2 separate regions of the Homo sapiens genome follow, and region 2 is linked to region 1. The links come from fine-mapping of genetic effects on gene expression. Tissue or cell type: left ventricle. Region 1 holds a variant in brackets; the other region holds the start of a gene. All regions are shown on one strand. Distances are from middle to middle.

What was found. PIP is the estimated chance that this variant, and not a neighbour inherited with it, causes the effect.
Region 2: CPE starts here. The variant in region 1 is fine-mapped to the expression of CPE in left ventricle (GTEx, PIP 0.90).

The regions. Positions count from the first base shown.
Region 1 is chr4:165,412,791-165,420,978 of GRCh38, reverse strand. All of the region lies in intron 1 of CPE (carboxypeptidase E), which reads right to left. Among named protein-coding and RNA genes, the nearest start is that of MIR578, 31 kb to the right of the region's middle. The variant TA/A (reference allele first, on the strand shown) is at 3,739.
Region 2 is chr4:165,374,273-165,382,460 of GRCh38, reverse strand. It overlaps CPE (carboxypeptidase E), which reads right to left and starts at 3,453. Exons shown (of 9, transcript NM_001873.4): 1 at 2,933-3,453. The coding sequence starts at 3,239. RefSeq lists an enhancer at 1,137-1,681 and a silencer at 3,161-3,420.

The DNA.
Region 1 (8,188 bases):
ATAGAGAAGTACGGGCCAATTTCCTTTATGAATATACATATGAAAACCTAAGTAAAATGTCAGAAAGTAGAAATGTGTGTTTTAAAAATCTGCTCCAAAGTTTACTTTTAGTATCCTATAAATAAAAAATTATCTTAAATCAAAATGACATTTAATAAAAACTAATTATTCCAAATGCTTAAAGTACCTAATCTGCAACTTCAGAAGAATGGTTATTTGAATGCTTGACTATGCATATGAGCACAGAAATGCCATTCCCATTAAAATCAGGGAAAAGACATACTATGTAACAGTATACTAGAAATTCTCTACTATTCAATTATGCATAGGAATAAATTACGATATATAAACTTAAAAATATAAAGTACCAACACTGTATACAATTTATATAGTACACTCAGAAAAAAAACAGAAAAAATAAACTAGACATCACCTGTAAAATGGAGATGATAAAATAAAGAAATAAATAAACAAACTGGACAGCCATTAGAATTCAGAGTTCAGCAAAAAGGCCAAAAACAAAATATTTATATGAAAAATAAATAGTTGTTTTACTCCAACAATAACAAGTTAAAAATATAATGAAATAATTTATCCACAGTAGCAATAAAAATATTGCTAGCATAGGAATGACTACAATGAGAAGTATATCACCAATATTAACATAACTGCTATAATTTTCTGAGAAACAAAAGTTATAAAACATTCACTTTTTCTCAGATTTATACTTTGGTGCATTTTCACTCAGAATAAAAAAGAGAATGTTTATTAAGTGATAACATGATATGAAGACCTTCTAGAAGACAAACTGGTGGGAATAACAAAGCAAAGAAAATAATTAAAGAGATAAAATCTAAGAATAAGGGTGAGGATAGCACTAGCCCTTTGAGATATTAAGACAGTCACACATATAAGGCTACAAAAGTGAAAAAAAAATTAGGTGGGAAGCAATTATGTATGCATATATCACAGAAATAAGCTATTATATCTTTTATTTTCATATTTGAAAAAAAGGCATTCTAAATCTATGTTTAAAAATATTATCCAGTGAAGAAGTTTGGTTCAATTGGCTAGCAACTTGCAGAAAATAGAGTTTAGATTTTTAAATACCACCATACAATAAAGGCTGGGTTGATTGGTTGGTTGATTGATTTTTGAAATGTTTGATGTATTAGTTCCCAACTGGAGATTTGAATCAGAATCTCTTCTGGAGCTTTCTTCACATGCATGTTTGTGCCTGGGGACCACTCTTGGACAAGTGCAAAGGACAAGGAGTCAATGGACAATGGCTTATGTAATCTAATGTGCAAAACCCCTTCTGCCATTGAAAGACACGGAATTGAGTTCAAATCCTGACTCTGCTATTAGGTGTGTGACTTTAGGAAACTGAAACTTGGTTTTGATGATCTTACATTTCCCCAATTATAAAATGAGAATGAAAATAATAACTATTTTAAAACATTATTTTGAGGATTAAATAAAATGACTTACATAAAGTACCTAGATTTCATGCTTCTAATTCATTAAAAAATACACCGATACATGAGTTTGTTTCTCTGTCTGGAAAATCACATCTTTAAAAGTAAAACAAATTTTTATAATAAATTTAATTTTTTGCCTTCAGTTCTCAAGGGAAAAGGAGGAAGCATCACCACACACTCAGCTCCCAGCCTTTTACTTTACACGTCTAAACTTAAAATACAAAACTTAGACTTGAGCAACTGTGGTTAAAAATCTAAGAGAGAAACAATAAAAATAGAGAAGAATCCAACATATTCAGTTAGTATTTCTTCTAAAGAAGGAGAATGAAGCATCTAATATTTCTTATGCATGAAATCAAAGACATATTCAGGCACATAGCAGAAATGCTTTAATGACCTAGAAAAGAGTTGTAAAAACCCTGGCTTATTTGATTCCTCAAGTTGCACACCACCAGAAGACCACGGAGTAAGTAGTACTGAATTAAAATGTAAGCACAGAAAACTAGGTCCCAAACTATCAAAAAATGATTCCCAATTCTAAATGTTCAACCACATCTATCTTAAAATATTTATAATATTTTTTTCAAATTATCTCATACTATTCCAAATGATTAGTTTTCCCTGCTATATTTTCTCAACTTTCAAATTAAAATTCTTTGCTTTAAAGTTAGCATTGTGATTTGTCATTTTCTATATCCCATTCCAAAAAAACTCTCTAATGGAAAAAAATGTTTAGTACATTCCTTCAGTTAGAAAATTATCATTGCTACCTTAGCAATCTATTAACATTCTTGGGAGAATTCTTACTTACATCAAAAATGTGGAAAGAACAGATTTAATACAAGTTCAACTGCTTTTATGCAAAACAAAACACGTTTTATAATTTTGGTCACAATCTCTAAGTAAACAAAACTTCTATTCTAATGGAATAACGCATCTCTCATTTCTATTATCCTGACACAAATACACACTTACTTAATATTCTGTTTGTGTGCTATCACCCTTCCCTGTAATGCTAGCAAAGAGTTTTAATTTTCCCCAAAAACCTCAAACTACAGATGGATAATTTTATAGACTTTGTGATTTTCAGCACAATCACTCCTCACTGAACACTTCCTGTCACCATCTGCCTCTTTTAAGGCCAAATAGGACTTTTCTTGGCTTGTTTATTTTTCTCCACAATCTGTTGTCTGACATTTTTCTCACCACCTTCTGGCCTTCTGTATTTTTGGATAGCTGCTCCAATCTGCACTCTTCCCACTCTTGTGTCTCCTGATTTTTCCAATGGGTCTTGAATGTCAATCAGTGGGCTGTACTCATTCACACAGAATGTGTTTGCTTTACCACTGGTTGGTGATATTTGCGTTTTAAACAACACCCTTATTAAATTCCTGAGTCTATTATTCTGAATAACTACCTACATTGGTGTCATCTGTCTTAGAATGAAGGCTTAGAGGACAAAAAACTCTCAGTCCACCTGTCAGAATTCAATTCCAAGAGTACGACATGAATTTGATCTTGAGGTCCTTCATAAGTTGCACTCAGTGAAATGTGCCCACACAGAACAAAAACAAAAAAGTAAGTCAGACTTTGTTAATACTGAATAGAAAATGACTAATGGTTCTCAATTTTCCCATTCACTACAAATTATTTATTAAGTACCCACCATGTTCCAAGCACGATACCAGGGGCTGGAGATTTAATGTCTTTTTTTTTTTTTTAAGACAGACAAAATATTAAAGTTGTAATAAAAGGAACTGAACTTAAGGCCCTAGACACTTTTGGATGAGTAAAATGGTGAGGCTTCACATTTATACTGATATGATCTAGTTAACTTAGTGCTTTTTTCTACATCACTTTCTCTGGGCTAAAATCATAGTTCTAAATGAAATGCATTTTCTACCATCAAAAAAGACAAAGCTAATGATAAAAAAAAAAAATACTGCCAATAAATATTTGTGGAATGAATGAATGGCTGCCAGTTCTACTGTTTGTAGTTTTACAATCCTAAAGTCAATTAAACTCTCTGAGTCTATTTCTTCATCTGTAAAATAGAAGTATAATTCCTACTTCATTACATTGTTGAATGAAAAGAGATAATCTCTGTGAAGCCCAGGCTCTTAGAAACTGCTCTATAATGAATAGCTCTGTCTCCAAGTCAAAGGCAATTCAATAATACCAAGGGAATTATATTTAACTTAGTCCAAATATTTTCATATGGCTACACTTGACTTCTAGGAAATTTACTCATTTTTTT[TA/A]AAGTCTAAACTAAGGAGAATTGGACAGTTTCCCAATTTTTATAACCATCAACATCTTATCTGTTGCCATTCCTCCACCCCACTCACCCATTCCTTCTTCTGCCCCCTAATCCATTCCATATTATTTTCTAGTCTAAGAAAATGGCTCTTTCTTTCTGTCCCCTAAGCCCAGTGGTTTATTTGCATCTTTTGTAAATAAACCTGCCAGCTTTCTAAATAAAACCTAACTCCAGTCCTGCAAGATTACAGTGAAGAAAGCATCTCATAAGATAAAGAGAAGCTGGAGGTCAGAATTCTCTTTTTTACCAAATTCCATTCATTCATGGACTCATTGACACATTCGAAAATATTTTCTGAGTCCCCACTGTGTGCCAGGCACTGTCCAAGCTGATGAGAATACAGTGCTGAGAGAGACAGAGAAGGTCCCTGGTGCCACTGAGCTTATGGCCTAACAGGATAAACAACTGTAAAACAGGTTGATGAGGAGGCATATGTGGGGCCACCGCACTATCTAGGACAAACCTATATAACCCAGGCCGGGGGAATCAAGAAGGCGGAACCCCTACTGTGAAATCTAGTAATTGAGAAGAAGATAGCCAGGCAATGATGGGGAAGACCAGTCCAAGCAGAGGAAACGGCATGTGCAAAGCCTGGCATGAGCAGAGTTTGGGGCCTCTGGAGATCAAGCAAGTTATGTTGAAGAGCCTAAATTGTCTACCGCATATTCTCCCTTTGATGATTTCTACTGTGTTACCCTAAAGCCTCCAGCACCCTTTTGTGTAAGTGCCTCAGCCTGCCATGAGCTACACTACTGGAAATTTAAAACAATATTTTGTGTCTCCCCTAGGGGCCAGAGCATTAAGGGGAGCAGTGCCCCCACCACTAGCTAGCCCAATAGTGGCAGTGGTCACCGCCCAGAGCCCCCAGAGGGGCAGGTGAATGAATGAAGGGTAGGCAGAGTCAGGGCCAGAGGATCGGTGAAGACCCTCCCATGTGCCTTCTCCCTCCATCGCCAAGCTTAGAAGATCGTGTGTAACTTTATTAAGGAAGCCAGAAAGCTTCCCTACACCTTACTTCAGAGCAATGCTTTCGTCTCAGCTACTGTTACGGTTGAGTTGGCGCAGGAGTAGGGAAGTAGCTGAGCTGGCAGGGGAGTGCAGGCGGGAAGATTCCTTGTGTAGTCTGGGCCTTAAGTTTTAAGAAAAACGTTAACGCCATGCCTAGAACTGCAGAACCCAAGGCCAGCTTCTAATTCCCGGTTTTATATTTAGTGTTTACCTCTGGGGGATCTAGATCCTAAAGAAAACTAACTAAACAAACAAAAAAATCTGTGTCATTCTTGGACCGAAAACAAAAACTTACATTCTCCCATGTTACCTAAAAGGAAGACACAGGACTTCTATATATGTGACAAATATATATATATATGCACTATACCTGTGTACTACACAAATATGTACTATATGTATGTATGTAATATATATGTACTGTATATACTATATATGTACTAGACAAACAAATATATGCTATATTTGTGACAAATATAACATGTAACACATCACTATATAAATGTATTTGTATTAATTTTGATCTCTATATTTCTACATCATTTAAATTATACACTTGAGCTACAAAATAATTAGGTGAATAGGTGAAATAATTAGAGAATAAAAGGAAGACATGGAATATATAATAAATGTTTACCAAAAAGCTTTTACTCATAGTGAAAATTTAAGTATTAGTCATTATTAATTGTCCCAAAGCATACTTTAAAGGAAATAATGCTAAGAAAATATTAAAGATTGTGGTGACAGCTCCTCTGAGCAGGAGGAGCTGGTTTCATTTTGCTGTATTTAATCCAAATGATAAAGGAATTTAATAAAATTACCCTCTAGGTAGCAGTAGTTTTAAAAAATAATCCAAATCCGTTCTGACACAATAGCTCTCCAGAGAATAACAGTAGATCCTACAAATGACAGAGGAAGAAACTCACCTCGTCTGCTGCCCCCATGTAGAGAAAAATAGATTAACTCACTGCCATGGAATCCTGTAAAGATCATTCTCCAAAGGTTTTTCCACCAATCAGAAGGTCAGTGATCTAGAGATATTCTGGAGACCGGCACTATTAACATTTTCATTAATTATATCTATTTATGATTTGTCAGCAGCAAGGCTAAGGAGGAGATAAATTAAAGATTCAAAACCAATGCCCTGTTCAAACATATTCATTTGGAATTAATTTGTAATAATGAGGTGATTATGAGACAACTCATTCATCTGGTGCTAATTATATTTTGTTTTTTTTTTTAAATAATGGCTGTTTTTCCAATCTGGCATTTTGTAATGTCACTAAAGTTCACTTCAAAATGCAAATATATCCTAAGACAATAACCAGCTGTCCCTGCGGTCATGTGAGGTGGTACTTTTCAAGCTCAATTTGGTTTCTGGATGCATTCTTCTAAATTATTTTTTATATACACTGTAAATAAGTACATATGTGTATATATGTAAATATGTGTGTGTGTGTATGTGTGTGTGTGTGTATATATATATATTACTTTATCTCTATATCTACGTTATCCAGGATACTTTGGCTCAACATTTCTTAAGTCAAATTTTGCAGACCAGTCAATATTCATCAAACTACTTTAAGATGGAGCCAAGTGGCCTACAAGAGAATACTGCTAAGGCTGTTAACACATATAATTTATGCAGGAGAATATTCCAAGCTTCCTGACTGCATCACACTTTTAACTTTTTCTTACATTCGAAACTACACTTAGAATCATAACAAACTTCATTTTTCAAACGTTTGACTTTGAGGTGTGTACAAGTATACTCTGACTCTATAAACTTACTCTTCTTTAAAGCAGATCATCCTATTTATCATAAGATTATTAAAAATGTATACCTTTGCTTTTATTTGCCATAAAAAAAGCTTTCTTTGGAATAAAATAGATTTTTATCCAAAGATGCAGAACTGTTTTCAAGATAAATCCAATCTGATCAATTTGACAGATTAAGACTCTCTTCAATAGTAATTCCTCAAATTATTTAAATAATTTATGAAACAGTAAAGGCTTAAAATATGAATTACATAGCCTTAAAAGTTCTAGATCCTTCATGGATTTTATTTTTGGTTTATTATTGCAGGAAAATACATACAAATCTTTTGAGAAAAATAACAAAACCAAGACTTTTTTTCCCAGTGTGCTATAAGCGAGCTCAATAAATGTTTCAAAGTGAACGATTTTTCTTGTCCATATCAAAATAGAATACTCGTCAAATGCTATTAATAATTTAACTTAGAATAGAATCATAAATATGCATGAATGGAAGATCACTTCCTGTATCTCCATGCTCAGAAGACCTTTGACTAAACATTTCCAGAAAGATAAACAGCTGCCCAATTTTCAGGTATCTCCAAGCACGTCAATGCCAGAGGCTCTGAGAAAAAGAAAAGGCTTACATGACATCTTCTGTGACCTCTTGAGCTGTGTTGGTTGTCCCCTCCTCTGTGTTCCTGTTCATGCCTGTAACACAACTCCTAGCATGTCCCTTAATTATCTATTTACACATCAATTTCTCACAGGAAAGTTTCCAAAGCATTTTAGTTATCCTTGCTTTTTATTTGAGAAAGTAAGCTCAGAAAAGTTAAGTAACTTGCTTAAAGCCTCAAAGGTAGTACTGATAAAGCCAGAATTCAGCTAAGAGCTATGAGTCCAAAGCCTCTTGAATTCTCCATCATACTATGTTTCTGCCTCAAATATGGCATCACTCCTAATGAAGCTGGTGTTCAAAACATGCCTGCTAATTAATTACATGTACAAATGCCTTACATGTACATGTTCTGGGTCACCATGCTGGGTACTGGAGAGAACTGTGTGAACAAGATTCCCGTTCTCTATCCCCCAATTCTTCACTTTGGACCCAGCATCACATGGTTTCCAGGCCCGTGGACTCAGGAAAAGTGGCGTTGGACATGCAATTACAACACACTATAGAGACATGGCATCAAGGTAGAGATGAAAAGAAGGGACAAGAATAGCCACTTAAGAAGGGTAGAGTAAGAGGGAAGAGGGGAAGAAAAGAATGTTGAGGCCAGGGAACTGGCATATACAACATGTGAGAGACAAGAAAGAGCAAGTTTTGTTAAAATGAGAAAAGCCCTGTAGAGCTAGGGCTCAGAGAGTGCAAGTGTGACACTGCAGAGGTGTGCAGGGACCCAGCCAGAAGAATCTCAAGCGCATGCGAAGAAGTCTGGGTTTGATTCTAGGTGTAACAGTGAGCACCTGCAGGGAATTAAGCAGAGGAACGTTACAGATTTTGGATTCGAGAAAATCACTGGTTATAACGGTGCAAAAAGAAATGGAATACATGGCTGCTTAGAGGCTGGGAAGCCAATGACTGAAGCATTGAAGAGGTGAAGATGATGACTCTAGAACTTCT
Region 2 (8,188 bases), 39 kb after region 1:
TAAACACATTTCTTAAGTTCAATATTATTTCCTAAAGCTGAATCAGAAAGGTTATTTCAAACCAAAAAATAAGGTACTTAAAAGGTGAAAATAGTAAAGACAATTGGCCCTTTTTCAAAAGCAGGGGTCCTAGTGAAGACAGATATCTATACCAGCTATTTTGGAATTTGTAAATGTCAACAAACTGTACATTTCCTGTCTTTTGTCATCAATTCTTCAATAATCCAGTCTCCCTGACCTGCTGACCTACTGTCTTTTGTCATCAATTCTTCAATAATCCAGTCTCCCTGACCTGCTGACCTACTGTCTTTTGTCATCAATTCTTCAATAATCCAGTCTCCCTGACCTGCTGACCTTACTGTCTTTTTCTCCAGTCCTCCCAAAGCCGATCTTGCAGCCTCACATCCCTTTATGCTGTTCTTCAAGCTCCCAATTCTCTATTGCCCTCAGGGCAAGCGACTATCTTCTGTGTTATCTTCTATGGGTTGTGCAGAGGCACAACTCACAGACGCCTGGTCCACCTTGAGTATACAGGTGCTCAAAAAAAACACTGAATGAGCCCACTTGTACCTCAGAATAAGTATTCCTTTTTACTTCTTAAAATAGTTTAACCTAAAAGAAACTGAAAGGCCATTTAAGAATGGTGAACATTTTCCTTTTTCCAAACTTCCTTAAAGTTAATTCACACAAGCACCATCAAACTTGTATACTGATCAGATCTCTATATTTACTAGTTTCCTGAAGATCTCTAACCTCCTTGACGCTCATAAAAGGTGATGGAGGGGGATATCACCTTGTACTTTTGTTAGTGTTGGTTTATAATAGTTTATTTCTACTTTTAAAAATATAAGGGACACAGACATTTTGTATTCTATTAGTAATACCATAGACTTAGAGTCTCCTTCATTTAAAAAGGAATTGTAAAGTACATATTGTACAACACTTCCGAGTTTGTCTCTGTAAGAGGAATTCAATCAACGTATTTTGAATGTATGAAGAATAAAACATTTTATTTTAATACACTGTGTTATGCAGCTATTGATGGATTCATTTTTTCCACACTGCATATTCAGTATTTTTCCATAATGTAGATTATTTCATAATGTATATTCAAGCCCGCTGTGTGCCAAACATGAGCTGGGTGCTGGAATCAGGGTCCCCACTTCATACAGCTTGCAATCTAAAAGAAGGATTTGCAAACCTTGATGAACTATATATTCCAGATACTTAAGCAAAGAAATCATTGTTTTCATTTTCTAAAGCATATCACATTCTAACTGTAATATCACTTTAAAATTTTATTTCCAAATTTGAAACAACAAAAAGTTAAACATTAGCTTTCATATAATCTCTTGAAGTAACAACGCAAAAAACTCTGGGATCAATCTACAAAATAGAGTAACAAAGGGTTCTCATTAAGTAAGCAGCAGGAGACTCACAAATACTTACATTAGCTTTAACTGTGCCTAGGATATCTTGGCTTTGGTTATTGGATTTAGCTGAAAATCAGTTATCACATTTTAAATTTTTCCCTGTCTTCAGATAACAGTATGAAACTAAGTTTCAAAATGTCCAATCCTACATGCTGAATCCTGGTAGATAAGAGTAGTTAATATTAAATGTTTTCTAGGATCTGATCTTAGAATTTTGACAGCAAACTTACATGAACCTTTTTTTCTTATATTATTTGAAGGTAAGAAATATTTCCTGAAGATTTATTCTTGATCAACCCACCTACTATATATTTGAAGATCAAAATGTCTATTGATCACTTATTTTAATCTCTTCTCAGTTTGGTTCTTACGTATCATTATAAAACTATACTGGCCCTGCACTGAGAATTTTTAGCCTACTTTTCTTGCTTGCTTTGTCATTAAACAAAAATTAAGCATCCATCCCATGCTGATATTATTAGCACAGATTACTTTAGCTGTACCTTGATTATCAGAAGACCAGGCCCAAATTATTTCCTAAGCAGAAACATAACGAAAAAAGTCCCAAGAACATTTTTAAATACCTCTTTATTAATACTAAATGCATCACAATTAACATAAACCAAAAGGTGCTTTAATATACTCCTAGGAAAGACGAATACAGATGGTTATTTGGGAACATCAGTTGGAATAAAGACCCCATCACAAACTATTCATCTCAAATGGTTATAGCAGAGAAAATGGAATACTCCTTTTTCCTTGGAAAGGCCTTGTGCAGTTTCAAAATCTGGTTTCAAAAGTCAGAAACCACTTTTCACCCTGGTAGGAGGAGGGGCACCAACGTATCTTTATACACCACCACCCCAGATTGGCAATATCCCTAAGATTCCCCAAGCATCCACAGCAGCGAGTGTACCTAATACGTATACACACACAGGTAGAGATGGGTACACAGAGCCAATAAACTGGTCCTCTGGAAATTAGAGAAAACATGATAAATGACTCTTTCTCCCTCGTTCTCCTTTCCTCTCAATCACTGCCTTCTGCACCTTATCTTTCTACTCTTGTCAGCAAGGAAGACCAACCCCCCTTGCGGGGGACTCGCAATCATTCCTTTGGGTTTTTCACACAGCAAAGTGAGAGCGACCGCTGGGGTTGCGTGCGTCAGGATTTGTTTTTTCTGTATTGCTATCCCCCCCATCCCCCGCCACCCCAGCCTCCCAAGCCTATACTTACTAGAGGGTGGCCTAAGGTCTGGGGAGATGGGATTGGTGCTGGGGGGATGGGACGGGAAAGCAGAAATTGGGCCACTGGCGCTCTAAGTCGGGTTCTTCCCCATTTCCATCCCTCCCTCCACTTCCCACCTTCCACCTTAGATACCTTTTACCAAGAGGCACCCCTGGGCCCATCCCTCCCTCCTTCCCCCACCGCCACCAGTCCCACCCTCTGCCGCCCCCCTCCGGGATGCCCCCAGGGCTGTCAGGGGGCAGCGCCCTTACCAGGCTCATGGACGCCAGGGTTGTCGGACAGCTCGATGACCAGGAGCTCCCGGCCCTCGAAGCTGCGCCCCACCGTGTAAATCCTGCTGATGGCGGTGCACTGCAGCCACACGGACACGAGCGCCTCGCGCAGCTCGGGGTAGCGGTGGTACTCGAAGGAGATGCCGTCCTCTTGCTGCAGCCGCCGGCGCCGCCTCATGCCCGCCGCGGGCGCCCCGGGCTCCTGGGCTTCGGCGCCCAGGAGCCACCCGCAGGCAGCCAGTGCCCCGCACAGAGCCAGCAGCGCGCTGCCCCCTCGCCCGGCCATCGCTGCGCTCCGCCGCCGCCGGCCGTGCCTTCCTACGCGGGCGGCCTCTTTTGTCTGCCCGGCCCTGGGCTTAGCCCGCCGGCGCTGCTGGGGGCGGCAAGTTCCGCACCAGCCTCTACTCGCCTCACCTTCCCCGGCTGAATGAGTGTCAGCCCGCGCACTGGGGCCACCCAGAGGAGACGGGCAAAGCCGCGGCTCCACGGGCTGCACTACTGGCCGCGGAGCCCAGGGGAGCTGCAGGAGAAACCACTGCGAGGAGGGGGCCGGCGGAGAGACGGGCCGGCGTGGATCTGGGAGGGCTGCTGGCGTTATTTGCTGGCTCGGAACCACGTCAACAGCCAAATGGCGTCCGGGACGACGCAGGTGAAATGACAGCTAAGGTCCGGGGTTCGGGAACGTTACTGTCATTGAGACACCCATGACCCACCCACGTCACTGCGTATGGAAAAAATATTCTTGTATTGTTAGTGGAGCCTTTTAAAGGGACATCTATTCCAAGCCTACCAGTTTCCATCTTGATCCACCAAGAATTAGAGAATATTCCAGAAAAAAGGAAGTACTGGCAGCCACTTGCCATCTCCTGATGCGTCTTTCATAATTGTATCAAGAGTCAAAACACAAACCCAAGGGTTGGGTTTTCATTTATTAGAAGGTCTTGCTGGAAATCAGAACATTAAGTGCTTTGATTTAGAGGTTTAAGAGAATAGAAATGCTTTCTTCCAATTTGTAGATACTGTCCTTAATTGTATTTATGCACATTCCTAGATTCTTCCAGAAAACAAACAGACAAAATAAATAAGGCAATGTCATATGGCTGTGCCTGCACCAGCCCTCCTCTTTAATACTATGGGGAAAATAAGTACAACTCTGCTGATGCTTTAGACAAAGGATTTAGTTTGGCATTAAGATTAAATCCTGTTAAGAAAACTCTGATGATGACATGACACCTCCGTTCCTTTTGCAAAGCTATTGTAAAAATAAAAAATCATTTACAGCTTTAAATATCCACCCCTTAGTCGGGATTTATATTCCTGGAGCAATGTCTGGAGCAGATGTTACTCTAAAGAGGCTGCTGTTTGGATTCAGGGACAGCACAAATCTAAATTAATAAATAATCCATTGGGTATTGCAACCGAGCAGGAAAAGTGGACACCATGCGGGTAATTTTCCATGTTAAGCTTCTTTGTTTTTCTAAACTTGTTCATTCTTCACCTGTTTAACAATGCATTGCACATAATAAAAACTTTTACGTGGAAAAGGAGTTAGATATTTAAGTCATCTTATTGGATCAATAAATAAAAGCACAGACATGGTTGGTAAGGTGCTGCTGGAGGGGCTGGCTTTAAACACCCCTATGTACATATACTACAGCAGCATGGATCTTCTTTTTTTTTTTTTTTTTTTTTTTGCGTTTTCGGGGAGAAACTGTCACTGTAAACACATGGCACTCAAGTTGAATTGATGTGGATCCAGCCATTTTTTTTTTTGTCAATGTAGGCAGAGCTAAAAATTGTATATTTTCCACTATGACCAGTCTGTGCTTGATTACATGGTCCAGAAGTTTGAAATCAAACTTATAATTATATTTCTAAAACCATGCCCAAAACAGCAACCTTGGAAGCCTAGAAAAAAAAATTGAGTAGCTAAAACCAAATAACTTCAGAAGTAGGAGGTTAAGATTTTCATGTTAGCAATTTAGAGTAACCACACTAATTTGTGGCTAGGTGGGGCATACTGACTAGTAACTACACACATAAACAACATATTTTTCATTGAAGTCCTGTGTTGTTCCTTAGCTGTCTCTTTGAACAAAGGATATGCGTTCTATTTTCTCCAAAATAAAAAATTTTGGAATGAAAACTTGGTCTTTGAATTTCTGGGCTATTTTTAGGTGTAGGTCAGCTGTACCAACTTTACTGGCATATGTATTACTTGTTTGTGGCTTCATAGGCAATTATACAAAAGATTATATATCCACCCTGATTGCTGGATTTAAAAAATTTTATTTTGGAGAAAAAAAAATTGTAATGTGTAAAATCATGCCTACTATGTGGTCTCACTTGTTGGGCAGGGGGTTCTCTTTTACAGCTTAGTTGTTTGTTTCCCTAATCTATAAAATAAAAGGTTTGGATTTTTCACTCTCTAACGTTTGCTTGCAACAGAATCATGTAGAGAGTTTATAGAATGTGCAGATTCTTAAGCCCCTATGAATTCATCAGGTCTGGGGTGGGTTTCAGGTATTAACAAGCTTCTAGGTTTTAAAAAGAAGACCAGTCATTTCTGATGTTGATGTTTGATTGACAAAGACATTTTGAGAAATAATGTACTGTAGGTTTCCCACTGTCTCTTTCAGACCTAAAATGCTATGATTCTGGAAATTTTCTTTTTGAAGTGAATTCCTGCTCATTTGATAAATGGTGGCACTCCTCACATATTATTGGTCGTACTACATACACCAAGGCATCAGTTCAAATGAACTAAAATTTGGTCTTTGAATTTCTGAGCTATTTTAGGTATAGGTCAGCTGTATCAACTTTACTGGCGTATGGATTACTTGTTTGTGGCTTCATAGGCAATTATGTAAAAGATTATATACCCATCCTGATTGCTGGATTAAAGAAAAATCTTGTATGCCAAGTCTTTAATGTGTGTACACATAGTTAAATTTAGTATGCAATCTCCATTTCAAATCATGTGCACACATGCACACACAAGAAACAAAAAGAGAAAGAAAGAGCTGCTTTTTCTTCATGTCATTATAGGCATCCATAAGAGCATATTTAAACTCCCTAGGTCTCCCTCCACTTCTTGCTTCACCTCTATTATCTTTAAATTAAGAAACTATCTTTTTCTTTATCAATAATATTTTATTTCCTTCTTTCAAAGCCCTTCCTAAAATTCGTCTACTTCATAAAAATTTTGTGAACACATAGCTCTATATTCATCCTGATGTGTGCTGGTAAATGTCAGCTGTCTGGGGGGAAAAGTCTGACTTAGAATGTTTGCTAATTTCCATGGTTTAAATATTCCCACCATGGCTGATTTCAAACTACCAATGTTGTATCACTGAATACAGTGTTAGGAAGAGATATGCAGTAGCATGACATCATATAGTGTTGTGATGGGACAATTCTTTATACTCCTCCTTTGCAAGTGATGAAACTTAATTTCTTCCATCTGAGTGTAGGCAGGACTTAGTGGTTTTCTCATGAACATAACACAGCAAAAGTAATGAGATGATCTTCCAAAATTAGGTTATTAAAAAGACTGCAGCTCCCATCTTAATTGCTCTCTCATGCTTGTGTGTGCGCTCTCTCCTCCCCCTCTCCCTCTCTCTCTCCCTCCTTTCCTTCCCCCAGTCCCCCATCACTCCATCGCTTGTCTTGGGGAAGTTGTCTGCCATATTGTGGAGAGGCTTATATAGCAAGGAACTGAGGCATCTGGCAAACAGCCTGAGAGAAACTGACATCCTCGGTCTAGCATTCAGTTAAGAACTGAGGTCTGTCAACAACCATGTGGGTGGGCAGGGGCAGATCTCAGCCCCACCTGAGCCTCAAGAGGGCTCCATCTCTGACATCTGAGGTTTACCACAGCCACATTAGAGACTCTGAGCCAGAACCACCACTAATACATACATCTCCCCCATACAGATACAATAGACATAAATAACCTCAAGAACATCAAGGATAGAGTGATGTCAGCAAGATAGCAGAATAGGAAGTTCCAGCCCTCATTTCCCAACAGAAACACAGATTTAACAGTGATATAAGTAACAAATTAGCTTCATAAGAAGTTCAGGATTAAGTTAAGAAATTTCAGTACCCCAGACAAACAAAAAATCACAATCAGCCACACTGAAACAGATAAGAAAAGCTATTTCACTTTACCTGCGAGTACAACTCAGCACCAGAGAGACTACAATCCTTTCCTGGTGTAGGGAGGGCAGGGGATAGAGAGTAGGGTGAGCATCCAACATTTCTGGCCTTTCAGTACACCCCTCAAGGGGCTGGCTTCTGTTGTGCCTCTTACAGAGTGCTTAAAGACATGGCATAGTCCAGATGCCTGGGAAAGCTAGGAGAATGGGCACCTTCCCATGGCTGGCAAGGCTCGGAGAGATCTGTAGAAGGCATAGAACTAAGGCCTCTCCTTCAGGAAAGAAGGAGGAGTGGATCATGACTCTAATGTCCTGAGCCTTTCAGTGAGCTCCCTGAAGAGCTAGTTTCTATCTCATCTCATATGGAGCACAGATGAGACTGACATGGGAACCAGAGGGAGCAAGAGATTGCTAGTGCTGAAAAGAAAAGAAAGGAAAAGAAAAAAGAAAAGAAAAGAAAAAGACTGAACACCTGGATCAGGACCTAGGAACAAGACCCAGAAACTCTATCTGGGCTGTCTTTCCCTATCAAAGCCAGTTCATTAAGAGTGGAGAACATGTCATTAAGACATGGATGTCACATGTAAAGACATCAATGCAAAGCTACAAGTAACATGAAGAAACAGGAAAATAAAACGCAATCAAAAGAACAAAATAAATATACAACAACTGGCCCTAAAAAAATGGAGATCTATGAATTGTCTGACAAAGAATTCAAAATGATCATCTTAAAGTAGCTCAACAAGTTACAAGAGAACCCAGATAGACAACTAAACAAAATGAGGGAAATAACACATTAAATAAATGAGAATATTATGAAGAAATAGAAAAGATAAAGAAGAACCAAATGGAAATTCTGAGGTGAAAGAATGCAATAACTGAAATAAGAAATTCATCATAAGGGTTTAACAGCAGATTTGATCAAACAGAAGAATTAGTCAACTCCAAGACAGGTCATTTGAGATTATCCAGTCAGAGAAGCAAAAAGCAAAGAAAATCAAAAAGAGTGAAGAGAGTCTAAGGGAATTATCAGACACCACCAAGTGAACAAATATATTGATTATGGGTGTCCAGA